Homo sapiens: one gene and its partners. The protein of the gene in region 1 purifies or fractionates together with the protein of each later gene. This does not show direct contact. Each region holds a gene or a part of one and is shown in the gene's direction. Other genes may lie near its edges. The genes, in order: CDC5L, SNW1, SNRPA, SNRPD1, ILF2, PRPF8 and SNRNP70.

What was found.
Region 2: the proteins of CDC5L (region 1) and SNW1 purify together in Homo sapiens (affinity purification with mass spectrometry; 5 studies listed by BioGRID and IntAct, with this or other methods). This does not show direct contact.
Region 3: the proteins of CDC5L (region 1) and SNRPA purify together in Homo sapiens (affinity purification with mass spectrometry; 4 studies listed by BioGRID and IntAct, with this or other methods). This does not show direct contact.
Region 4: the proteins of CDC5L (region 1) and SNRPD1 purify together in Homo sapiens (affinity purification with mass spectrometry; 4 studies listed by BioGRID and IntAct, with this or other methods). This does not show direct contact.
Region 5: the proteins of CDC5L (region 1) and ILF2 purify together in Homo sapiens (affinity purification with mass spectrometry; 4 studies listed by BioGRID and IntAct, with this or other methods). This does not show direct contact.
Region 6: the proteins of CDC5L (region 1) and PRPF8 fractionate together in Homo sapiens (co-fractionation; 5 studies listed by BioGRID and IntAct, with this or other methods). This does not show direct contact.
Region 7: the proteins of CDC5L (region 1) and SNRNP70 purify together in Homo sapiens (affinity purification with mass spectrometry; 4 studies listed by BioGRID and IntAct, with this or other methods). This does not show direct contact.

What each region holds. Positions count from the first base shown.
Region 1 is NC_000006.12:44,422,206-44,425,705, forward strand, and holds part of CDC5L (cell division cycle 5-like protein), read left to right. Parts: intron 1-441; coding exon 442-604; intron 605-2,213; coding exon 2,214-2,378; intron 2,379-3,500.
Region 2 is NC_000014.9:77,751,157-77,754,656, reverse strand, and holds part of SNW1 (SNW domain-containing protein 1), read left to right. Parts: intron 1-3,176; coding exon 3,177-3,338; intron 3,339-3,500. UniProt on the Homo sapiens protein: Involved in pre-mRNA splicing as component of the spliceosome. As a component of the minor spliceosome, involved in the splicing of U12-type introns in pre-mRNAs.
Region 3 is NC_000019.10:40,749,882-40,754,002, forward strand, and holds the start of SNRPA (U1 small nuclear ribonucleoprotein A), read left to right. Parts: upstream 1-1,321; 5' UTR 1,322-1,527; coding exon 1,528-1,600; intron 1,601-4,121. UniProt on the Homo sapiens protein: Component of the spliceosomal U1 snRNP, which is essential for recognition of the pre-mRNA 5' splice-site and the subsequent assembly of the spliceosome. U1 snRNP is the first snRNP to interact with pre-mRNA.
Region 4 is NC_000018.10:21,618,814-21,622,313, forward strand, and holds part of SNRPD1 (small nuclear ribonucleoprotein Sm D1), read left to right. Parts: intron 1-3,500. UniProt on the Homo sapiens protein: Plays a role in pre-mRNA splicing as a core component of the spliceosomal U1, U2, U4 and U5 small nuclear ribonucleoproteins (snRNPs), the building blocks of the spliceosome.
Region 5 is NC_000001.11:153,664,641-153,667,993, reverse strand, and holds part of ILF2 (interleukin enhancer-binding factor 2), read left to right. Parts: intron 1-336; coding exon 337-439; intron 440-2,265; coding exon 2,266-2,331; intron 2,332-2,657; coding exon 2,658-2,774; intron 2,775-3,353. UniProt on the Homo sapiens protein: Chromatin-interacting protein that forms a stable heterodimer with interleukin enhancer-binding factor 3/ILF3 and plays a role in several biological processes including transcription, innate immunity or cell growth.
Region 6 is NC_000017.11:1,653,868-1,657,367, reverse strand, and holds part of PRPF8 (pre-mRNA-processing-splicing factor 8), read left to right. Parts: intron 1-606; coding exon 607-720; intron 721-802; coding exon 803-976; intron 977-1,824; coding exon 1,825-2,018; intron 2,019-3,351; coding exon 3,352-3,500. UniProt on the Homo sapiens protein: Plays a role in pre-mRNA splicing as core component of precatalytic, catalytic and postcatalytic spliceosomal complexes, both of the predominant U2-type spliceosome and the minor U12-type spliceosome.
Region 7 is NC_000019.10:49,084,222-49,088,250, forward strand, and holds the start of SNRNP70 (U1 small nuclear ribonucleoprotein 70 kDa), read left to right. Parts: upstream 1-1,229; 5' UTR 1,230-1,415; intron 1,416-2,183; 5' UTR 2,184-2,193; coding exon 2,194-2,340; intron 2,341-4,029. UniProt on the Homo sapiens protein: Component of the spliceosomal U1 snRNP, which is essential for recognition of the pre-mRNA 5' splice-site and the subsequent assembly of the spliceosome. SNRNP70 binds to the loop I region of U1-snRNA.

The sequences.
Region 1 (3,500 bases):
GTACATTTGTAATAATGACAGTGATAGTGATGTGAGAACCAACAGCTTGATAGGGAGGGAGGAGACAAATATACACAAAACTCAAAGAGTCATCTGGGGTCATTGAGTGTGGTGGCCCACCTCCCTGCCCACTGCATGTTCTTAGTCGCCCTAATGTGCCAAGAAAAGGTTGAAATAATGTTTAGTGGACGTAGTTTAGGAAGGCAAGAAAATATCAAATGTAGTGATTATTGTAAGTCAGTAAAATAAAAATACCATGCTAGCTAGACCAAACATTGATTTTAACCTAGAGATCCTAACAAAACCAGCTGGACAGAATTTTGAAATCTTTATTCTTTTTTTTTTCTATATTTCCTGTGAAATAATTTATGTGAAAAACATTTGAAAGCACAATCCAAATGTAAGTGGCACTTCTGTTAATTGGGATTCCTGTCTTTCTAGGACTCCTTCTAATGGAGCTGAAGGGCTGACTCCCCGGAGTGGAACAACTCCCAAACCAGTTATTAACTCTACTCCGGGTAGAACTCCTCTTCGAGACAAGTTAAACATTAATCCCGAGGATGGAATGGCAGACTATAGTGATCCCTCTTACGTGAAGCAGATGGTAAATGTCAATTCCCTTTTAATACTCTTAAATTTTTTTTTAATATCTCATGGATGCCAAATTAAAATTTCTCCTGTTAGTGCATATCACATATACCTTAAGAATCTATACACCTGTGGATGCCAGAAAAAGAATTATTTGTAAGACTTGATGAAAGGGAATATTTTGGGCTCAAAACCCACCTTTCTTTATGCTTACTAGGTTTGTGAATATTGATGTTCGTTGTTGATTTCACTGAAGTTTTCTTTAGCAAGCTGAGGTAGAAAGCTAACTGTAAAAAGTTAAGTTTTGCTTCTGCCCGTGTTACTGCGTTTATTACTTTGCTATTGGGCCTTATTATCTAATGCCACAGAAATCATTGTGAAATTAAAAAAAAAACTTCTAATGATACTGGCTTGTCTTCAGTTTAAAATTAATTCTAACCTCATGTATATATTTGGTTGATTTATATATGTTTTTTAAAGTTCAAATTGATATCAACTAAAGCCAACTCTGAATGGATACATAAGAATTAAATAGATTAAGAACCTCATGCATGCAGAGCATGCATTTGGACATTTGAGGGGATCTAAAGTTGAATAAAGATGTCCTTTGTCCTAAGGAAATTTATATTCTGGGGAGATTGACAGTACTAAACTAAGTCCAAAAATAATTGCAATATCAGAACAGAATAAGCCCTTTGAGTAAAACCAGTGTGCTTAGGGTAGTTAAAGAAGGGAATAGTCACATTTGTTGGGTAACAGGAAAGCCTTATTAGAGGAGCTATGTTCTGAAGGAGGGTGGGGGCTGTCTCAGATGGAGACTACAATATGAGTAAGCATGGAGGATGTTTTAGATATAGCAACTCATCTGTTCCTCACACCTGGTACATGTAAGCACTGAGGATGGATGGGAAAACTCTGGGTACCAGGAGGCTTTTTTGGGAACCAGGACTCTACTTTCTTTCTTCTGCATGGGATTTAGTATTTCCATTAAAAATAAACACATACATACAAATTCAAGTATCTTTTAGAGTGGATTTTATTAGTCCAAGGACAAACTAACTTTTGAACCTGTTCTTTTCATTTGCTGTTAACTTTCGGTGTCAGAAATGTGTTCCCTCAAAGTGGTCTTTTTTTCTGCCCTGGCCTCAGACCTCCTGTTGGAATATCCCAGAGTATCTTCAGTGATCACAAGTGAAAGTTTTTGGTTGGTCTTAATGTTGGGAAGAAGGGGGGATAGAAAATAAACATAAGACTTGTCTTAGCTCTGAAGTCAGGATTATTTTTCTAGAATTAATATTAGGCTGATTTTTTTTGAGACTTTTTTTCTCTTTCTGTAATTTTTAATTTTTGTGGATACATAGTAGGTGTGTATATTTATGGGGTACATGAGATATCTTGATACAGGCATGCATGTGTAATAATCATATCGTGGAAAATGGGGTATTCATCCCCTCAAGCATTTAACCTTTGTGTTTGAAACCATCCAATTATTCTTAGTTATTTTAAAATGTACAGTTATTTTGACTAGAGTCACCCTGTTGTGCTATCAATTTTTAAGAGACTCATAAAATACTGGTGGAATGTTTAATATGCATGAATTGAGAAGGACCACTTCTTTTCTACAGGAAAGAGAATCCCGAGAACATCTCCGTTTAGGGTTGTTGGGCCTTCCTGCCCCTAAGAATGATTTTGAAATTGTTCTACCAGAAAATGCCGAGAAGGAGCTGGAAGAACGTGAAATAGATGATACTTACATTGAAGATGCTGCTGATGTGGATGCTCGAAAGCAGGTGGGTAACTGTACTGAAAGAAGCGTGAGTTTGGCTGAATGTGTCAGTAGGCTGGAAGAATGAAGAATAGCCATTAAATGTCCCAAGATCTCTACCTAGTCCTTTTTAATATTGAAAAAACTTCTAAAGTAAATAACTTATGTCATTAATAATGTATCCTCACATAATTAACATACTCACAATATTTTGATGAGCATTCTTAAAAATATATATATGGAAATTTAAATACATTCTGTCAAATTCATTATGCTTCTCTAAAATACACATAGGTAGTCTTTTAGACATTGCTTCAATCTAGCAAAGAAAAGATGTTATTGGTTAGTCTTAAAAACAAATACATCTTGGTTCCTGGGTGGTGCGATGTACGAGCCTGTAGTCTCAGCTGCTCGAGAGGCTGAGGTGGGAGGATTCTTTGGGCCCAGGAGTTTGAATCCAGTCCGGGGAACATAGTAAGACCTCTATCTAAACTGGAGTTGGAAATTTAGATAGAGTGTGTCAAAATAATATTAGTAACACTTTGTACTAATATATCTTATACGTAATTACTTTCTCATTTGCACGTAACAGCACAGTGATATAAATAGGATCGGTATTACAGGTTGAACATTGCTAATCCAAAAATCCAACACCTGAAATGCTCCAAAATTCAAAACTTTTTGAGTGCCGACATGAAGCTCAAAAGAAATGCTCATTGAAGCTTTTTGGATTAGAGTTAGTATAATGCAGATGTTCCAGAATCTGAAAAAATCAGAAATCCAAGATACTCTGGGCCCAGATATTTCTAGTAAGGAATACTCAACAAGCTCAGATGAATTGAGGTCTCATGGTCTCAACTTTCTCAGGTCTCATGGTGGGTAAGTGGTGAATCCTAAACTAGAACTGATATTTTATGACCCCTTTCAGTAGCTGCAGTCCATTGCTGGATGATTTTAGGGACCTTGAATCTCAGGGGATTGGAGTGAGAATGACATCAGTGGAAACAATATTTTAGAGGGGACCCATGTAAATGTGCTTTTCAGTGGGGAACAGAGGATGATACTTTTTGTGTTTAGTTCTCAGCTACTTTGAGTTACATTTACTCCTTCAGAAATGGCATGAAATTTTAATGTGTTATCCCACATT
Region 2 (3,500 bases), on another chromosome or scaffold:
AGATAAGAGAGATGAAAGTGGTTTTCATATTTGGGCTCCTCCTCCTCCTCCTCCCCTCCGATAATACCACATAACCCTGAAGAGACAACTTTCCTTCAGGGAAAACTCCAGTAGCACTTCCTTTGCTGATTTCTTTCTCTTCACCTGTTTTCTTACCTTTAATTTGAGAATGTTAATATATATCTGATATATAGATTAAATATATTTTTGCGGGTATAAGACAAAATTTGGTTGATTTGAAGGCAATGAGGGAGAAGGAACCATCTGGAATAGCTCTTTCTATCTCTAGCTTGTTGCCAAATAACAAGCTTCCGGTCGGGCGCAGTGGCTCACACCTGTAATCCCAGCACTTTGGGAGGCCAAGGCGGGCAGATCACCTGAGGCCAGGAGTTCGAGACCAGCCTGACCAACATGGAGCAACCCTGTCTCTACTAAAAATACAAAATTAGCCAGGTGTGGTGGCGCATGCCTGTAATCCCAGCTACTCCGGAGGCTGAGGCGGGAGAATTGCTTGAACCTGGGAGGCAGAGGTTGTGGTGAGCCAAGATCGCACCATTGCACTCCAGCCTGGGCAACAACAGCAAAACTCCATCTCAAAAAAAATAAAAAATAAAAATAAAAAGAACAAGCTTCCTTGGCAGCACCTATTCTAATTACTCAGGATCCTTTACATTAATTAATTAATTTTTATTTTTTTTATTTTTGGGATGGAATCTCGCTCCGTTTCCCAGGCTGGAGTGCAGTGGTGCGATCTTGGCTCACTGCAGCCTTCGCCTCCTGGGTTCAAGCGATTCTCCTGCCTCAGCCTCCCAAGTAGCCAGGATTACAGGCACGTGCCACCACATCCAGCTAATTTTTTGTATTTTTAGTACAGACAGGGTTTCACCATGTTTGCTAGGCTGGTCTTGAACTCCTGACTTCAGGTGATCCACCTGCCTCGGCCTCCTAAAGTGCTGGGATTACAGGTGTGAGCCACCGCGCCTGCCCCACACTCTTTATTAGAGTTTATAAGAGGAACACCCAACTAGATCATATCTTGTCCTATGTATTCCAAAAAACCCACATGTAGGTCTTTTTGTTGCTTTTTTGTCAGCTTTCCTCTGGTCCTTATGAATGCTGGTGTGTGAAGGCCAGTCATATTGCAATTATTAAGGGATTTTTGTTGCTTTTGTTCTCTCTGATAGTGTTATTTATGGGAGGCAGAGGAAGATGAAAGATTATCAAGGAGTCTTACCTGGGGCAAAAAAGTAGTGATTGGCATCATCTAATAGAGCAGTTGAGTGTCTCTGTTGAGGCATTATAAATATTGTTTGGTCTGTCAGTACATTGCACAATGAGGGTGACAGGCATCATCTTACATAGAATGTAAATCTCATCCATGCATTTCAGCATTACGATACTTGGTTGCTATTAGATTTTTAGATTCTTACTTGGCTATCAGTGGTTTCATATATCCTGGTGAAACAGAACAACTTATTTGAAAATCAAGTTGAAATGGCTAGCTAATCTGGAAATGCTATGGATGCTGCTTGAGGGGAGTGAATGTTCTGTGGAAGAAGGCATTTTGTTCTAGTTTTCAAAATAAAAGCTATGATTTTCTGGCAAGCTTAATGACCACATAATGCTACAGCTACAGTTCTGAAGTACTTATTATAGTTGAAAAACTCTAGCAAATCCAAGCATGTGTCAGATTGATGGCTTGGGTACGGGAAGCACTTATCTTAGGAATGCTTTAACTCTTTCTCATTTACAAGAAAATGTCTCTCAGCTTTATTCTCTTGGTTTTCAAAAACTTCAAACATCTCTTTAGCAAATAAGCATATTGTACTTAGGAACTCATATATCTTAGATCTAACGGAGTATTACTTAAAGAGGTCTTGTAAAAGTGAATATTTTCTTTTTTTTCCATCAAACCCCCTCTAAATGATTAATTTTAATTTGTGTTTTCTATTATTTCTTAATAGTACTCATTTGGCTGTTTTGAGCTAAAAGAAAGGTATTTCATAGTAGTAGAAAATACAAAGCTTTTCGGAGTCTCAAAAGATCTGGGTTCAGGTGCTGCATATAATACCTATGAGATCTCAGGAACACCGCTTAATTTTTCTAAGCCTGAATGTTTCCATTTAAAATGATGTTAAAGAGTTACAAGGATTAAATGAGATAATACATGTGTGAATCATGTTTAAAGTGTACTAAGCAAATACTACTGAATTTTTTTTAACTACTTAAAAATTATACTTGATCCTCATGTTTATTTGATAAACCTTTTTAAAATACTACATTTCATCAGCAAACTTTATTTAGCTTGTTCTACTTTAGCAGTCTCAGTTCTCTCTCCTAAATAATTATGTATAATCACTAGTAGAAATGTAGTAAACTCATTTCTGGATCCTTCCTATTGTATTCATTTGCTTCTCACATAACAATGAATAAATAATATGTTAATAAAATCTGATTCCAAGAAAAAATCTTTTATATTTCTGCCCCAAGTATAGCTTTACCTGTTCCTCACTAAAATATGTATTTATATGCTAAAATATATACACATATATTTTGCCTTGTCCTAGCCATTTTACTTAGTTTCGTCCTGCATATATGAAATCCACATTTTCTTGCTGTAGCATGTAAGTCCCTTTGTGATCTGGTGTTTTTTACTCATGTAACTTGTGCCTCAAGCTCTGCTGTCCTTATTAAGCTGTTAGCCCCACTGAATTCTCATTTCCTAAAATATACCAAGCTCATTCTTGCAGCAGGGCCTTTGCATTGGCTATTTGATCCATCTAGAAAATGCTTTGTGTGTGTGTGTGTGTGGTGTGTGTGTGTGTGTGTGTGTGTGTGTGTGTGTGTGTGTCTTCCCATGACTGCTTTCTAATCATTCAGGCTTTAGCTCACATGTTACTTCTTCACAAAGGCTGTCCCCAACCACCCTATCAAAAGTAGCCCCTTTTCCCAGTCTTTTTCTTTTATATTACCTTCATGGTACTTATCACAAGCCAAAGAATGTGTTTTTTATATCTTTGCCTACTAGAATGTAAACTCCACAAGAGGCAGGGAACTCTGCTGTATCTCTAGCATCTAGCATACTAAGGACTCAACAATTACTTGTTGAATGAATGAATATATCTTGAATGTCAAATGATGATTAACTATTTTATTTAACTACTTCTAATGTGTAGGATTTTGGAGATGGAGGTGCTTTTCCAGAGATCCATGTGGCCCAGTATCCACTGGATATGGGACGAAAGAAAAAAATGTCGAATGCGCTGGCCATTCAGGTGGATTCTGAAGGAAAAATTAAATATGATGCAATTGCTCGACAAGGACAGTCAAAAGACAAGGTAATCCTCTCATGTTTTCCCTGAATGATAAATATTTTAGGAAACATTTTAAATTTTGTGGACACGATAAATCTCTTGCTGTTTGAATTATGTTAAAAGTAGCAGTGGCTGGGCATGGTGGCTCGTACCTATATTCCCAGCTACTTGGGAGGCAGAGGTAGG
Region 3 (4,121 bases), on another chromosome or scaffold:
TGGAGATTTTAAAGGTTTAAGAGCTGAGTTCCAGAATCTGGGGACTGAGCAGTGGGTGTGAAAGGACCAGGGCTAATATTTGAAACCACGGGAGCAGGAATTGCGAGGCTGACTCAAGTCATAAGGCACCTGACGGTTAACAGGGTGGGGTCCTTAAATCCGGAACCGGATCTGTGGTACCGGTTGGGTTACCTCGGGAGTCTTAGGTGGAGAGTTAGTAGGAGTTAACTCATTCTTTGGGGCTGGATGTGGAAACTCATGAGTGAGTTTGGGATATGAAGGCTCAGATCTAGAGTGAGGTGCCTTAAGGATGCGACTTAGGGACCCAGGGCTAAAGATTCGGAGAACTTAGGTTCAGTACCCCCTCACATCCCAGGCCCGAGTTCGGAACCTTTGAGCTGACCTTTGAGTCAGAGGTCAAGAGGTCAAAAAGGACACCTGGCAGGGAAAATGGCCTAGTTGTGGAGAAGGTCCTGGAACCAGAGCAACAAAAAACGTCTGTGGGTTGGAGAAGACTCAGAGATCAGAGGCCGGTGGGCGCCGCGATAACCACTGGAAAAAGGAAAGGAGTCAGGAAGTAAAGTGCACCTCCCACTCCCGGAAAATGGCGGCCCCCGCACACTGCCTTTCCCATATCACGTGGTATTACACGCAACAGTTCCCGCCCATTTTGCGATCACGTGACAGAAAACGCAGCTCTGGCGGGGGTAAGAGGCGGGACTCCAAAAAGGATTGCCTCCGGAAGACACCGCAGCGCGAGACGCGTACAGACTCGTGACCTTCACTGATTGGTCCGTAGACCCGGGCGCCACGGAAGGAGGTGGGCTTTCAGGGAGTGGGGCGGGGTTTTTCTACCTAGGCGGGAACCCAAATATCGTTTTGATTGGCAACAGCTGAGCCCAGAAACGAGACTTGCTCTGATTGGTCAAGCTACTGCGTTTCCGCGCGGCGATTGGCTGGCAGAAAGGCAGAGGCGGGGCCAGGAGAGAAAGCTTTGTGGTTTGGTCTCAGGGAAGTAGCAGGCGCCGGTTGAGAGAACTACGGCCCTGTCGGAAGGTAACCTCCGGTGCAAACGACCATCGGCGGCAGGCGAGCGGTACGCTTGGCGTCCGGGCCTTCCTGGGCCCGTCTGAGGAAACTTGCTGCTCGAGGCCAGGCTGCCTAGGACCTGTCCCTTTTTTCTATACTGGCTCCCACATCCGGGTTTTTTCTCCGGGACGGCCCTTCGGATGCTTGGGCCAATGGGAATCGCCATTTAGGGTGCTCCGCCCACCGGGTCGCGTAGAGCATCCTGGAAGTCGTAGTAAATCTCTCGAGAGTTCTCTCCGCACGCGGGCTGGAGAAGCGGGTCCTACGCACGCTTTGTTGTCGCGCTTTGCCTCCGTCCTTGCCCCTACTCCCGCCTTACCTGACTTCCTTTTCGGAGGAAGATCCTTGAGCAGCCGACGTTGGGACAAAGGATTTGGAGAAACCCAGGGCTAAAGTCACGTTTTTCCTCCTTTAAGACTTACCTCAACACTTCACTCCATGGCAGTTCCCGAGACCCGCCCTAACCACACTATTTATATCAACAACCTCAATGAGAAGATCAAGAAGGATGGTGAGTTCTCGGGATAGTCCGGAGTCCAGACTGTCCCGCACGGGCTGGCCCCTCTTCCGTCCCCTGCACCCGCCTCTCTTTCTAAGTGTTTGTCCAGCCAAACTTCGAGTTAACTCCTTGGCCTTTACACAAACTACTTCCTGTCTTCAACACTCCATTAGTTCATCTTACACTCTGCCCTTTAACGTGGTCACTGCTGCTCATCTTACAAGGTTTGAGGTCACAGGACCCTTCCTCCAGGAAGCCTTGCCTTGTCCCTTCACGTGGCTGCCGCTGACTTGCCGTACGCTGAGACCATCTCCCATCAAGCCCTGATTCCTCTGAGCTGTCGTGGGGCTCTCTCTCCTCCCAGTGGCCTTTGAACTCCGTGAGGGCAAGGACTGGGGCTTTCTTGGTCACCGGCTTTTTCAGTGATCAGCCCACAATGAACATGTACCATAATGGTGGCTAACGCTCTGTATCATGGGCTGGTCTGTGTGCTTTCATATAAATCTTGATAACATTTAATTCTCACAACAATCTTGTAGGAAGAAGGCTATTGTTATTCCCATTCGTCAACTAAGAAACTGGGGCCGGGCGCGGTGGCTCACCCCTGTAATCAATCCCAGCACTTTGGGAGGCCGAGGCGGGCGGATCACCTGAGGTCGGGAGTTCGAGACCAGCCTGACCGACATGGAGAAACCCTTTCTCTACTGAAAATACAAAATTAGCCGGGCATGGTGGCGCATGCCTATAATCCCAGCTACTCGGGAGGCTGAGGCAGGAGAATTGCTTGAACCCAGGAGACGGAGGTTGCAGTGAGCCGAGATTGCGCCATTGAACTACAGCCTGGGCAACAAGAGCGAAACTCCGTCTCAAAAAAAAAAGAAAGAAAAGAAAAAGAAACTGAGACAGGGGTGATGTGACTTGCCCAGGGTCACATAGCAAGTAAAGTGGTTGAGGCCACCCGTATAGAATTCTGCTTAGGAACCCAATTTTTGGCCGGGCGTGGTGGTTCAGGCCTGTAAGCCCAACACTTTGGGAGGCTGAGGCAGGAGGATCACTGAAACACAGGAGTTCAAGATCAGCCTAGGCGACAAAGCCAGACCTTTTCTCTACAAAAAAAAAAAAAAAAAAAAAAAAGGCTGGGCGTGGGTGGGGTGCGTCTGTGGTCCCAGCTACTTGGGAGGCTGAAGTGGGAGGATCGCTTGAGCTAGAGAGGTTGAGGCTGCAGTGAGCTATGATTGCACCACTGCACTGCTGCCTGGGCTGAGCAAGAACCTATCTGAAAAAAGGAAAAAAAAAAAGAACTCAATTATTGAAATCGGAAAGACTCTCTCACATTCTCAAGTAAATTATCACCTTTATTGAACCTCATTTTCCAGATCTAAAAACTGAGCAAAATCATAATACCTTTTTTGCATGGATGTTGGGGGAGATTAAATTAGCTAAACCTTGCAGTATTTCTTTTTTATGGTAACTGGCAGCTAGTAAAGGGCTGGATAAATGTTAGCTCTTATCACTTCAAGAAAATTATCGGGAGAACCGAAGGAGCTTGTTGGGATTCAGTTTGAGGTTACCAGTGAAGTTGCTGTTGAAGAAAGCAAAACCAGCAGCCGGGCACTGGCTCACGCCTGTAATCTCAGCACTTTGGGAGGCTGAGGTGGGCAGATCATTTGAGGTCAGGAGTTCAAGACCAGTCTGGCCAAGATGGTGAAACCCCGTCTCTACTGAAAATACAAAAATCAGCTGGATGTGGCGGTGCGCACCTACAGTCCCAGCTACTCGGGAGGCTGAGCAGGAGAATCACTTGAACCCTGGGAAGCAGAGGTCGCAGTGAGCTGAGACCGCACCACTGTACTCCAGCCTGGGTGATAGAGACTGTCTCAAAAAAAAAAAATCAGGAGTGTAAATTTTGCATATGTTTTTTTTTTTTTTTTTTTTTTTTTTTTTTGAGGCAGAGTTTCACTCTGTCACCCAGGCTGGAGTGCAGTGGCACGATCTTGGCTCACTACAACCTCTGCCTCCCAGGTTCAAGCGATTCTCCTGCCTCAGCCTCCCGAGTAGCTGGAATTACAGGCACCCGCCACCACGCCTGGCTAATTTTTATATTTTTAGTAGAGACGGGGTTTCACCATGTTGGCCAGGCTTTTCTCGAACTCCTGACCTTAGGTGATCCGCCCACCTCGGCCTCCCAAAGTGCTGGGATTACAGGTGTGAGCCACCACACCCGGCCTGCATATGTTTTTAGAGTGTGGTGCCCAACCATTATCGGGCAGTGCTGGGGACACATTGGTGACATAGAACCCTGGTTTTTTGTTTTTAAATCTTATTTTATTTATTTATTTATTTTTGAGACGGAGTCTTCCTCTGTCGCCCAGGCTGGAGTGCAGTGGCACCATCTCTGCTCACTGCAAGCTCTGCCTTGCCTCCTGGGTTCACGCCATTCTCCTGCCTCAGCCTCCCGAGTAGCTGGGACTACAGGCGCCCACCAGCACACCCGGCTAATTTTTTGTATATTTAGTAGAGAAGGGGTTTAACC
Region 4 (3,500 bases), on another chromosome or scaffold:
TTAAAAAAAGGCATTTTAAGGTTGGTTTCCCTTTATTCATTAAAACATTTCAGCCAACATTATTCAGTGCCTATTACAGTCTAGGATTAGATATAGAGCTTACGATCCCTACCCTCAAGAATAGTCTAGTGCGGGAGGATAATAGGTTATCTTATGTGTACCATTTAGTGTGATGATAGGATCTGTTAATTCAAAGTATATATTATAGACTAAAAGTTTTTATATGAACTGTGTATTGTATGATAGTGTGGGGTTCATTTTCTTAGATGTGATTGTGAGATTATGGTTATATAGGAGAATGTCATTAGAAAATGCATGCTGAAGTGTCGTAATGCCTACAACTTACTTTGAGATGGTGTGATCAATTTTTTTTCGTTTGTTTTTTTGACAAAGTCTCACTCTATTGTCCAGGCTGGAGTTTAGTGGTGCAGTCTTGGCTCACTGCAACCTCTGCCTCCCAGGCTCAAGCAATTCTCCTGCCTCAGCCTCCCCAGTAGCTGGGATTACAGTCAAGTGCCACCAAGTCTGGCTAATTTTTTTGTATTTTTAGCAGAGACGGGGTTTCGCCATGTTGGCCAGGCTGGTCTCGAACTTCTGACCTCAGGTGATCCGCCTGCCTCGCCCTCCCAAAGTGCTGGGATTACAGGGATGAGCCACCACACCTGGCGAAGACTGTCTTTAAAAAAAAGGGCCAGGCCTGGTGGCTTACGCCTGTAATCCCAGCACTTTGGGAGGCCAAGGTGGGCAGATCACCTGAGGTCAGAAGTTCGAGACCAGCCCAACGGGTGAAACCCTGTCTCTACTAAAAATACAAAAATCAGCCAGGTGTGGTGGCAGGCGCCTGTAGTCCCAGCTACTTGGGAGGCTGAGGCAGGAGAATTGCTTGAACCCAAGAGGTGGAGGTTGCATTGAGCCAAGATCATGCCACTGCACTCCAGCCTGGGTGACAGAGCGAGACTCCGTCTCAAAAAAAAATAGAATTTTAAAAAAAGACGGAGTCTTGCTCTGCCACACAGGCTCCAGGGCAGTGACACAGTCATGGCTCATTGCAGCCTCAAAGTCCTGGGCTCTAGCGATCCTCCCACCTCAGACTCCGAGGAGCTGAGACTACAGGCATGAGCCAACAGGCCCAGCTAATTTTTTTATTTGTATTTTTTTCGAGATGGAGTCTTGCTCTGTCACCCAGGCTGCAGTGCAATGGCATGATCTTGGCTCACTGCAACCTCTGCCTCCCAGGTTCAAGCGATTCTGCTGCCTCAGCCTCCTGAGTAGCTGGGATTACAGACCTGCACCACCACACCTGGCTAATTTTTTGTATTTTTAGTAGAGATGGGATTTCACCATATTGGCCAAGCTGGTCTCCAACTCCTGACATTGTGACCCGCCCACCTTGGCCTCCCAAAGTGCTGGGGTTACAGGCATGAGCTACCGCACCCGGCCAACTAATTTTTTTTTTATTTTTATTTTTGTAGAGACAGGATCTTGCTTTGTTGACCAGGCAGGTCTCGAACTCCTGGCCTCAAGTGATCATCCCACCTTGGCCTCTCAAAGTGGTGAAATTACAGGCATGAGCCACTGCACTGGCAATTGACAATATTTGTAAACCCTTTAACTTTTCATCCTCTGCAAAATTTTATAAAAAGGGGAGAACGGAAATTTAGATGAAGTGAGAAGTGGATAGATTGTTCATTATATATTATCAAGGCAACTGGCTATTCAGTTGGGGAAAGTAATAAAGACAGATTTGTGCCTTACACTGCATAAAAAAGATCAATTCCAAGTAGATTAGAACTCTAAAAGTAGAAGAAAATAAGACACTATTTTTTTACAATCTTGGCATAGAAAAAACCCTTTCTTAGGTAAATTATGTATCCCAGGAGGGTGAACAAATTCAAAACATAAAAGTGAAAAAAGTTTGTGTGACTAAAGAAACCATAAACAACAAACTTGAATGACTGGCAAACCAGTAGAAAATAAAAGAAAAACTCAACCTAATTGAGAATGTCAATAATGTGAACAGGTAATTCACGGAAGAAATAGTTTTCCCATGTTAATGAAAAGATATTCAGGCAGGGCGCGGTGGCTCATGCCTGTAATCCCAGCACTTTGGGAGGCCGAGGCGGGTGGATCACGAGGTCAGAAGATCAAGGCCATCGTGGTTAACATGGTGAAACCCCGTCTCTACTAAAAAAAAAATACAAAAAATTAGCCAGGTGTGGTGGCGAGCGCCTGTAATCCCAGCTACTCGGGAGGCTGAGGCAGGAGAATGGCGTGAACCTAGGAGGCGGAGGTTGCAGTGAGCCGAGATTGTGCCACTACACTCCAGCCTGGGTGACAGAGCGAGACTCTGTGTCAAAAAAAAAAGATAAGATATTCAATCTCACAGGTAATTAAGGAAAAGCAAATTTTTTCCCCATCAAATTGACAAAAATTTGAAAGACTTATAGCAACTTGTGTTGGTGAGGGTTTGCATAATTGGGTTTGTAATGGGAAAAAATTGAACCAAAGTAATGTCCGTCAACAGGCGGTAATAAATTTTGACATTTCCATATAGTGGAATACTTTCCAGTTCTTAGAATGTTATTTTGTTATTTTGGCTTTTTGTGAGATGGAGTCTTGCCCTGTCACTCAGGCTGGGGTACAGTGGAACAATCTCACCTCACTGCAAATGCTGCCTCCCGGGTTCAAGCGATTCTCATGCCCCAGCCTTCCAAGTAGCTGGGATTACAGGCGTGCGCCACCTTGCCTCGCTAATTTATTTTTATTTTTTTTTAATTTTTTTTGAGATGGAGTCTTGCTCTGTCCCCAGGTTGGAGTGCAGTGGTGCGATCTTGGCTGACTGCAATCTCTGCCTCCCAGGTTTAAGCGATTCTCCTGCCTCAGCCTTCTGAGTAGCTAGGATTACAGGCGTACGCCATCCTGCCCAGCTAATTTTTGTGTTTTTGTAGAGATGGAGTTTCACCATGTTGGCCAGGCTGGTCTTGAATTCCTGACCTCAGATGATCCGCCCTCCTCGGCCTCCCAAAGTGCTGGGATTATAAATAGGCATGAGCCATCACGCCCAGCCTCAGTTCTTAGAATGTTTTGTATGTTGAAATGGAAATATGTCCAATATAAACTGCTAAACGAGGACTACAAGTTATAGACGTGAATAAAATATGACCCAATTTATGTCAAAAGAAATCTGTATATATCCTTCTGAATGCATATAAAGTGATCTGGAATAATATTCCTACATACCCACAGTGCAGGGGGTTAGGAAGGGAGATTTTTACTTTATAGGCATTATAATAAGCTTGTAATCTTTTTACCGACTGTAATTCTTTATTTCTTTTTTTTTTTTTGAGACGGAGTCTCGCTCTGTTGCCCAGGCTGGAGTGCAGTGGCGTGATCTCGGCTCACTGAGAGCTCTGCTTCCCAGGTTCACCCCATTCTCCTGCCTCAGCCTCCCGAGTAGCTGGGACTACAGGTGCCCGCCACCATGCCCAGCTAATTTTTTG
Region 5 (3,353 bases), on another chromosome or scaffold:
TTTTGATGATTTAGTTTTAGGAAAGGGCAGCTTTGGTAGTGTGGAAATTGCCTTGGCTCTTGACTTTTAATTTTCAGTTGTCTATTATCCAAAGCCAAGCCTAAAATGAGAAAGTACAGTGGAATTTCTTTGTAGTACTGATCTTGGGGACAAGACTTGTATCATTGTTATGCTAGCTGTGATGTATCAGGCTTTCATGTGGTGGTTTTGGGGGTGATTTCACCTCTGCTACTTCTTAATTTGGGTAACAGGTAGCTGTGTTGTAACAGTTCTGGGAGGACCTAGGCACCTTTTTTTCTTCTAAATTGTTTTTCCCCGAAATCCTTTTTCCAACAGCAAATTGAAGAAGTTCGACAGGTGGGATCCTATAAAAAGGGGACAATGACTACAGGACACAATGTGGCTGACCTGGTGGTGATACTCAAGATTCTGCCAACGTGTGAGTGTGCCTGTTTCTGGTCATGGGAACAGAACATAGCACTTGGATTAGGGGTTTAGGTATCTTTTTTTGTTTTGAGACAAATTCTCCCTCCGTTGGCCAGGCTGGAGTGCAGTGGTACCATTGTAGCTCACTGCAGCCTTGACCTCCACTACAGCAAGTGATCTTCCCGCCTTAGCCTCCCGAGTAGCTGGGACTACAGATGTGTGCTACCACACCCAGCTAATTTTTGTATTTTTTGTAGATACAGGGTTTCACCGTGTTGCTCGGGCTGGTCTCAAACTCCTGAGCTCAAGCAATCTGCCCACCTCAGCCTCCCAAAGTGCTGGGATTACAGGCGTGAGCCACTGTGCCCAGCCCTTACGGATCTTGAAAGCTCAAATTTCTTGTGAGAAAGGATGTTTGTAAGACAAATGTTTCTAGTTTTTGTTTTTGAGACGGATCTCACTCTGTTGCCCTGGCTGGAGTGTAATGGCGTGATCTCGGTTCACTGCAACCTCCACCTCCTGGGTTCTAGCTGTTTTCCTGCCTTGGCCTCCCAAGTAGCTGGGATTACAGGCAAGTGCCACCATGCCAGGCTAATTTTTCTATTTTTAGTAGAGACGGGGTTTCACCATGTTAGCTAGTCTGGTCTCAAACTCCTGACCTCAGGTGATCCGCCCGCCTTGGCCTCCCAAAGTGTTGGGATTACAGGCGTGAGCCACTGCACCCTGCCTGACAAATGTTTTTTAATGAGTGATAAGGGACAAACGCTGGAGTGTGTGTGTCTGAAAGAATGTATAGCAGGTTACTGTACGGCCATGTTTCTCAACTGGAGGTAATTTTGCCACCCAGGGGATATCTGGCAGTATCTGGCGGTACTTTTGATTGTTAAAACAAGGGGGTGCTACTGGCATCAAAAAAGGGTAGAAGCCAGGTGTGGTGGCTGTATTCCCAGCACTTTGGGAGGCTGAGGCAAGAGGATCACTTGACCCCAGGAGTTTGACCAGCCTGTATAACATAGAGAGATCCTGTACCTACAAAAAGAAAAAAATTAGCTGGGCATGGTGGTGCATGCTTTGGTCCCAGCTACTCAGAAGCCTGAGGTGGGGCCGGGTGCAGTGGCTCACGCCTGTAATCCCAACACTTAGGGAGGCCAAGGCCTGGAGTTCAAGACCAGCCTGGCCAACGTGGCAAAACCCAGTCTCTACCAAAAATATAAAAATTAGCCAGGCGTGGTGGTGGGCGTCTGTAATCCCCACTACTTGGGAGGCTGAGGCAGGAGAGTTGCTTGAACCTGGGAGGCAGAGGTTGGAGTTAGCAGAGATCGTGCCAGTGCACTTCAGCTTGGGTGACAGAGTGAGGCCCTGTCTCAAAAATAAGAAAAAAAGAAAAAAAAAGCAGCAGCCTGAGGTGAGAGGATTGCTTGAGCCCGGGAGGCTGAGGCTGCAGTGAGCTGTGATTGTGCCACTGCACTGCAGCCTGGGTGACAAGAGTGAGACCCTTTCTCAAAAAAAGAAAAAGGATAGAGGCCGTGGATGCTGTTAAACATCCTACATCCCCATCACCCCAAAGATTTGTCTAGCCCAAAATGTTATTAACTGCCACTGACCTGAAAAACCCTGCTGTAGAAAGAGGATATGAGTACAGGAGGGGTCCTGTTCCCTGAGTCTTCCAATTTTTCTGCCCAGGCCTTGGCTTTCTCTTATAAAAGTATATATTCTATTACTTACCCTTGCTTCAGCCTTGGATATGGGACAGAAATGAGAGTGCAAAGTAGCTTAGAGATACATAGAAAGTCTAGGCAAATAAATTATTATAACATTATGTCATTTTCTGTCAATTAGTGGAAGCTGTTGCTGCCCTGGGGAACAAAGTCGTGGAAAGCCTAAGAGCACAGGATCCTTCTGAAGGTTTGCATTTGTTGCTGATTCTGTATTTAGTAGCCATAGGAACCAGGTCTTGTAATTGTAAGTACACTTTCAACAAAATCAGATCAGACCAGATGGAAGAGTAAATGCAGAGTTTTATGTTGTGGGAGTTTTTGGCAGGGGCTTCAGGTGTTCAAGGTGTTCAAGGGAGATCTGTTTGATCTCCCTTCTAAAGCTCTGTATTCTAAATTCTCATTCTGGACTTTGTGCTGTTTTAAAAAATCCACCTGTTCCCCCCCACCCTGGATTTAACTTTGATCATCTAATGGAAATGTGAGTTATAGTTTTTGTTTATTCTGTTTTTTCAGTTTTAACCATGCTGACCAACGAAACTGGCTTTGAAATCAGTTCTTCTGATGCTACAGTGAAGATTCTCATTACAACAGTGCCACCCAATCTTCGAAAACTGGATCCAGAACTCCATTGTTAGTTCTTTTTTTTCCATTGCTGGAAAATTTAGGGGATATTCAAAACATGGTATTGTTGCTGTTTAGTTTACTTAGCTTGTTGCTATTCCACATGCAGCTTCCTGGGAATTGAAGAACTTAGGTTTATTCTGAACTTTGCTCTCTCCCTCTGTAATTTGGAAATAGTTTATCAGCTTGCTAGTGGAATTTTCAGATGGGGTGACCAAGAAAGCATTTGGAGGACTTAAAAAGGACTGAGAAAATATTTATGGAGGGGGATAGGCTTTTGAAGAAAACAGATCTTGCATGTTTCTAGTGATTTTTAGACAAGTGATTTGCTGATATGAGAAACACAGGGTGGCTTAAAGAATTGCAGAGTTGGTCGGGTGCGGTGGCTCACGCCTGTAATCCCAGCACTTTGGGAGGCTGAGGCAGGCAGATCACCTGAGGTCAGGAGTTGGAGACCATCCTGGCCAACATGATGAAACCCCGTCTCTACTAAAATAAAAAATTAGTGGGGCATGATGGCGGTTACCTGTAATCCCAGCTACTCAGGAGGCTGAGGCAGGAGAATTGCTCGAACCCGGGAGGCGGAGG
Region 6 (3,500 bases), on another chromosome or scaffold:
GGCCCAGCAACGCATATTCTTGAAACATCCACTTTGACCAAATCTCTTCTCTACCTCACAACTCTTGCTGAATTAACTCTTCTTTAGCTTCCTAGACGTTCAACATCTGGCTGGGCTGTATCTGTCCAGCCAGTTTCTCTTCCTTTACATTTATAGCATGTTTCATCTTACATTCAGTCCAGGATCTTAGTAGCCCAAACCCCTGATGCTCATCTCCAAATCTGTGTTTTGCTTGTATTTTTCTTTCTAGAATGAACTCCCCTCTTTGCTCTGTTAATCACAGTCCCTCCTTAAGACACGTTTTTTTGTGCAGCTTTTTTCTGATCCTAGTAGCCTTAATTTCTTTTGTTCCTGAACTCTGTAAAACAGTGTATAGTTTAGCACATACTCATGTGTCAGCTTGTGGTATTGTCTTGTTGAAAGGGGCTGTCAGCCTGGTCATTGGACACGGCCATTTGATACTCTTTGTACCTTCTAAGTGCCTAACATTTAACATCAGTGTTCAATAGAAACGTAGTTGGATTATTTCAAAACTAGGATATTCTGTTCTAGTTGATCTGGGAGGGTAGAGACTAAATTTCCATTTTCTTCTCTCTTGCTTTTAAGTTGGCTAAGTGGAAGACAGCTGAGGAGGTGGCCGCCCTGATCCGATCTCTGCCTGTGGAGGAGCAGCCCAAGCAGATCATTGTCACCAGGAAGGGCATGCTGGACCCACTGGAGGTAAGAGGGTGGGGTGGGGTAGGAGAAAAGAGACCTTGAGACCTTCAGGCTGTTTCTCATCTTGGACTTGATCTTGTCTTAGGTGCACTTACTGGACTTCCCCAATATTGTCATCAAAGGATCGGAGCTCCAACTCCCTTTCCAGGCGTGTCTCAAGGTGGAAAAATTCGGGGATCTCATCCTTAAAGCCACTGAGCCCCAGATGGTTCTCTTCAACCTCTATGACGACTGGCTCAAGACTATTTCATCTTACACGGTATGAACCTCGGGAAGAGAAGATCGCTGGAGGAGGAGCGGGTTTAGGGTTAGGAGAAGATCCTGTGTCAGGTTTTTGCCATTTTCACATTTTTAGCCTATAGATTGGGTGGGAACTCTGTTGACTTTCATGAGAGTTTAAGACCTTAAAGTTAAAAATCAACTCTTGGGGCCGGGCGTGGTGGCTCACGCCCGTAATCCCAGCACTTTGGGAGGCTGAGTTGGGTGAATCACCTGAGGTCAGGAGTTTGAGATCAGGCTGGCCAACATGACGAGACCCCATCTCTACTAAAAATACAACAAAATTAGCCGAGTGTGCTGGGATGCACCTGTAGTCCCAGCTACTCGGGAGGCTGAGGCACCAGAATCACTGGAACCCAGGAGGCAGAGGTTGCAGTGAGCCGAGATGGCACCATTGCACTCCAGCCTGGGCGACAGAGTAAGACTGTCTAAAAAAAAAAAAAAAAAGGCCGGGCGCAGTGGCTCACGCCTGTAATCCCAGCACTTTGGGAGGCCGAGGCGGCGGATCACGAGGTCAGGAGATTGAGACCATCCTGGCTAACACAGTGAAACCCCATCTCTACTAAAAATACAAAAAATTAGCCGGGCGTGGTGGCAGGTGCCTGTCATCCCAGCTATTCGGGAGGCTGAGGCAGGAGAATGGTATGAACCTGGGAGGCGGAGCTTGCAGTGAGCCGAGATCATGCCACTGCACTCCAGCCTGGGCGACAGAGCAAGACTCTGTCTCAAAAGAAAAAAAAAAAATTCTTGGGTTTCATGAAAGGTTAGGATTAAAGTGGGAGAGCCTCAAGCAGCTGACCTACCCCACTCTTCCAAATCTTTTCCCAGGCCTTCTCCCGTCTCATCCTGATTCTGCGTGCCCTACATGTGAACAACGATCGGGCAAAAGTGATCCTGAAGCCAGACAAGACTACTATTACAGAACCACACCACATCTGGCCCACTCTGACTGACGAAGAATGGATCAAGGTCGAGGTGCAGCTCAAGGATCTGATCTTGGCTGACTACGGCAAGAAAAACAAGTGAGCAGTGCTGGTGGGGACACAGACAGGAGGTCTATATACGGTTTTCTGGGGTTTTTTGGAAGCACTTAGGCTTAGAAGTTTCTCAAGAAGGCCAGGCGCGGTGGCTCATGCCTGTAATCCCAGCACTTTGGGAGGCCAAGGTGGGTAGATCATTTGAGGTCAGGAGTTTGAAACCATCCTGGCCAACGTGGTGAAACTCCGTCTCTACTAAAAATACAAAAGTTAGCCGGGTGCGATGGCGCCTACCTGTAATCCCAGCTACTCGGGAGGCTGAGGCAGGAGAATTGCTTGAACCTGGGGGCAGAGGTTGCAGTGAGCCGAGATCATGCCACTGCACTCCAGCCTGGGCGACAAGAGTGAGACTGTCTCCAAAAAAAAAAAAAAAAAAGACGTTTCTCAAGAAATTATCTTGTCTTAGCCAGGCTTGAGTGCTCATGCTAGTAATACCAGCACTTTGGGAGGCCAAGGTGGGAGGATTGCATGAGCCAGGAGTTGAAACCAGCCTGATCAACAAGAGACTGACGCCATCTCTACCAAAAAAAAAAAATTTAAAACAGGTGTGGTGGTACACGCTTGTAGTCCCAGCTTCTTGGAGGCTGAGGCAGGAGGCTTGCTTGAGCCCGGGGGTTTGAGGCTGCAGTGAGCCATGATGATGCCACTGTACTCCAGCCTGGGTAACAGAGCGAGACTCTTGTCTTGAAAACAAGGAAAGAAATTATCTTACAGAGTCTCGAGGAAGAGAGATACAGCAGTGTCTTCGAATAGTATGGGAAGCATCCCTGTTTTAGGGCTTCAGTCTGACTCTTGGCCATTGTTTCTCACTGTTGCCATTTCAAACAGGGCATTTCTTTACTGTCCATACATGGGAAGAATTTTGAACATCCGAGACCCTAAGTATCCGAGACTGCTGCCAACACACACACACACCTTCCTCCCCTCGTCTCCCTCCCTGTCATCGTGGCAACCAAAATTATCCATAGGGTGACGGACAATACCACCTCTGATTAAGAACCAGTATTCTAGGGTTTCTGGGGTTTCCATTTCTGAGAACAGTTCCATGCCAGAGCATTGTTTTGGTCAAGGAAGCGTAGGGTTTATGGATGCTAAACAGTGGGAAGGTGCACACGCAGTGTGCTGTCCCGCTTGGATCTGACGAATCTTGGAAGTGTTAGTGCACCTCCGTTTCACACTTCCTGTAGAAGCAGCTCTTGTGGATTGTCTGGGGCGTGAGTATAGGCTGTCCTGTCCTACCAAGTTACACCCTTTCCATTGAGGCAGAAGTGACCAAGGGGAAGGGATCCTTGTAATATAACCCACACCATCCCCACAGTGTGAACGTGGCATCACTGACACAATCAGAAATTCGAGACATCATCCTGGGTATGGAGATCTCGGCACCGTCACAGCAGCGGCAGCAGATCGCTGAGATCGAGAAGCAGACCAAGGAACAATCGCAGCTGACGGCAACACAGACTCGCA
Region 7 (4,029 bases), on another chromosome or scaffold:
AGTCATTTTAATTTGCAATAATTTCTGTAGTTATTAAACAGGCTATTGAATCCATCCACAAAACTTAAGATACAATACTTAAGAACAGGGCTCTAAATAACAAGTGCCAGCTCTCTGATCTCATGGCCAACAACCTGAGATTCCTGCCATCTGGTCTCAGTTCAGGACCTTTGCACTTACTGTTAAACACCGCCCCCCCGGCCCCACCCCAGATCTCGCTTCTATCTGTCCTTTATTCAAATGTTACCTCTTCAGAGGGGCCTTCCATTATCACCCTTTCTAAAACAGCCTCGCTCTCACTTCCCATCCCTTTATTCTGCTCCATCGTTCTTCATTATGCTGGCCACTATCTCAAATTATCTTTTATTATTTATTTATTTATTTACTTTTGAGACGGAGTCGCTCTGTCGCCCAGGCTGGAGTGCAATGGCACGACCTCGGCTCACTGCAACCTCCGCCTCCCGAGTTCAAGCGATTCTCCCGCCTCAGCCTCCAGAGTAACCGGGCTTACAGGCGCGCACGGCCACGCCCGGCTAATTTTTGTATTTTTAGTAGAGACGGGCTTTCACCATGTTGGTCAGGTTGGTCTCACACTCCTGACCTCAGGTGATCTGCCCGCCTCAGCCTCCCAAAAGTTCTGGGATTACAGGCGTGATCCACCGCGCCTGGCCTCAAATTATCTTTATTCAGTTAAATGCTTTTATTGTCTCTCCCAGTACAATGTAAGCCCTAGCAGCAGAAGACTTTGCTTTAATCACGTGCTGTACCCCCAAAGCCCAGACAGTGCCTAGCACACACGAGATGCTCGATGAATAGTTATTGATTGAATAGATTAGACATCAACGCAATCAGGCTGTTCACCTAGGGACTCTTTGCTAGGCGGCGGAGAGGTACGTTACAGTTCTCTACGCAAAACGCATGCGCGAAAGATCCGGGAAGTGTGATCGGAAAGGGGCGGAGCATCAGGGAGAGTCTCGCGGACATAGGCGGTTCGGCGCGGAAAGCGGGAGGTGGAGGGGCGGCTTGGGGCAAGCGCGCGCGCGCAGTGCAGAAGCCAGCCCCCCGCGGCTGAGGTACTCAAGGTGCCCAAAGGCGGGGTAGTGACCTCGCGCGTGCGCTGTGCCCGCGGCAGCGCCGGGTCCTAGTGTGTGGGTTGTTGTTGGCACCGCACGGCGCGTGCGCAGTGAGGACGGCGGAGGGATTTGCGGCCGGGACCCACCCCCTGCTCCAGTCGCTATCGGAGGCCGCGCGGGTGGCTGAGCAGCGGCCTGGTGCGCTCGCTTAGCGGGCGACGGAATCAGACGGACGTGGACGCCCCCGGAGTGGAAGCCGAAGCAGGAGTTGTTGTTGCTGAGGGGCTGCCGCAGCCGCCGCGAGCCTCCGGACAGACGCCAGAGCGAGGAGGGCGCTACGCGGTGAGTGAGTGTGACTGAGTGGCCCGACGGGGTGCGGGGCCGCTACCCAGAAGCCCCAGCGGTGGGCCCGGTCCTCTTCCCCGCGGCCAGGCCCCTTTCCCGCGTCCCCGCCACAGGTCCCTTCTGCATCCCTTTCCCGGACCCCGAAATCTCTGGGCACCCACGCCCGCTTCCCACAGCGCCCTCGTGGTTCCCTACCCACAGGCCCTTGCGGTGTGTGGCCTTTTTTCTTTTTCGTTTGTCTATGTTGTCCTGGACCCTTACCCATAATTCCTTTCGCTTTTTGCGGGGTCCAGGTCTGTTACCCACAAGCACTTGGTTTTGGGGCTTCGCTCCTTATGTTTCTCTTTCTTTGCTTGGAAACTTCCGATCCCCAGGACCCTGCAAACTGCATCTCGTAATTTGCCCTCCACGGCACGGGACGAGCAGCCACAGCTGCTCTGGGCCTCCCTCCTCGGGTCCTTGATTTCCCCAGAAATTCCCAGGGAACCTCTCCGCCCCACAGCTCGTGTCAGAGGACTCTGAGACTTCACTCTTCAGGAACCCTTTTCCAGCCGTTATTTTTGTTTTCTTTACCGGCCTTTCACCTCCACCCCCACCAAGACGTACCCTTTTCTCCGCAACACAGGACTGTTCTCTGCCCTTACAGAGCCTGTTTTAATTCCGAGACTTTTCTCCTGTCTTTCTTATTTTGAGAGTCAAGGAGTAACAGGGGCTTTCTCTGTGCAGACCCGATCTAACCTAAGGCTGTCCTGCTTCTGCTCTCAGACTTGGCAAGATGACCCAGTTCCTGCCGCCCAACCTTCTGGCCCTCTTTGCCCCCCGTGACCCTATTCCATACCTGCCACCCCTGGAGAAACTGCCACATGAAAAACACCACAATCAACCTTATTGTGGCATTGCGCCGTACATTCGAGAGTTTGAGGTGAGTTCACTGAGCAGGCCAGGAATGGTTTGGGTTCTGGGGAGCAACGGGTTGGATTTGCGAGTCCAGCTTCTGGCCATTTTGCCAGCTGCGTGATTTAAGCGAGGGGCTTAACCTTTGTGATCCTCAGTTTCTCTGTTTTAAATGGGGTTGGAGCCGGGTGTCGGGTGTGGTCGAGTGCGTCTGTAGTCTCAGCTACTCAGGAGGCTGAGGTGGGAGGATTGCTTGAGCCCAGGAGTCGGAGGCTGGAGTGCTTTGTGATTGTGCCACTATACTCCGGCCTGGGTGACAGAGCAGGACTTCGTCTCTCAAAAAAAAAATTTTTTTTTTAAGTGGGGTTGTGGCCCGGTACGGTGGCTCACGCCTGTAATCCCAGTACTTTGGGAGACCGAGGCAGGCGGATCACTTGAGGTGAGGAGTTGAAGACCAGCCTGGCCAACATGGTGAAACCACGTCTCTGCTAAAAATAACAAAAATTAGCCGGACATGGTGCCTGTAATTCCAGCTACTTGGGAGGCTGAGGCACGGGAATCACTTGAACCCAGGAGGCGGAGGTTGCAATGAGCCGAGATCGCGCCACTGCACTCCATCCTGAGCAACAGAACAAGACTGTCTCAAAAAAAAAAAAAAAAAAAAAGTGGGGTTGATAGTACACCTTTTGTAGAATTTTTGTGAAAATTCAGTGAGTAGTGGTTGAGGATTCATGCCTAACCCACACCATTTATCAGCTCTGACTTTGGGCAAATGTTGTATCCTCTTAATGCATTGGTTTCTTTATCTTTAGCAAGGGGATAGTGGTAGCACCCTTATAATGTTGGTGGAGAATTAAATGGCAAACTGTATGTCAGGGGGCTTGGCACCAAGCAGTCAGCACATGTCAGCCTTTGTTACTCTGTTTACTACTTTTATTGTTAATAAGATGATGTTCATAAAGGCTTAGCACCCAGTATTGAGTATTGGAGGGCTTAAAACTGCAGATGGGGATCTTAGCTCTGCACCTTTGGGATAAATAGGAATGAATGACTTAGGCTCCTGGACCTCTGTGTTTTTATTTGTGAAATGGGATGACAAGGGTCATCTCTTAGGTGCATCAGAGCACACCTGAGAAAAGCTGGCACACAGTCGGAAGTTACAAGAAGAACGTTCTAGCATTGGGTAGGTAAGGGCAGCTGGAGGCGAGGGAGTTGCAGAGCAGAATTTCGTAGATAACAGAAAGGTATGTCTTCAGTGGGATTTGCCACCCTTGGTGAACCCGCACTTGAGAGATATTACTGGCCAATTAACTTAATGGGCACAGGCGGGTGGTAGGTGCCCTTTGATGATGCAGGTCATGTGCCAGTTACCATTTATTTATTTATGAGACAGTTTTGCTCTGTTGCCCAGGCTGGAGTGCAGTGGCGTGATTTTAGCCAACTGCAGCCTCCGGTTCAAGCAGTTCTCCTGCCTCAGCCTCTCAAGTAGCTGGGATTACAGGCATGCACCACCACGCCTGGCTAATTTTGTATTTTTAGTAGAGATGGGGTTTCACCATGTAGGCCAGGCTGGTTTCGAACCCCTAACCTCAGGTGATCCACCCCCCTTGGCCTCCCAGAGTGCTGGGATTACAGGTGTGAGCCACCATGCCTGGGAGCCAGGTACTTTTTTTTTTTTTTTTTTTTTGACTTGGAGTCTCGCTCTGTTGCCTAGGCT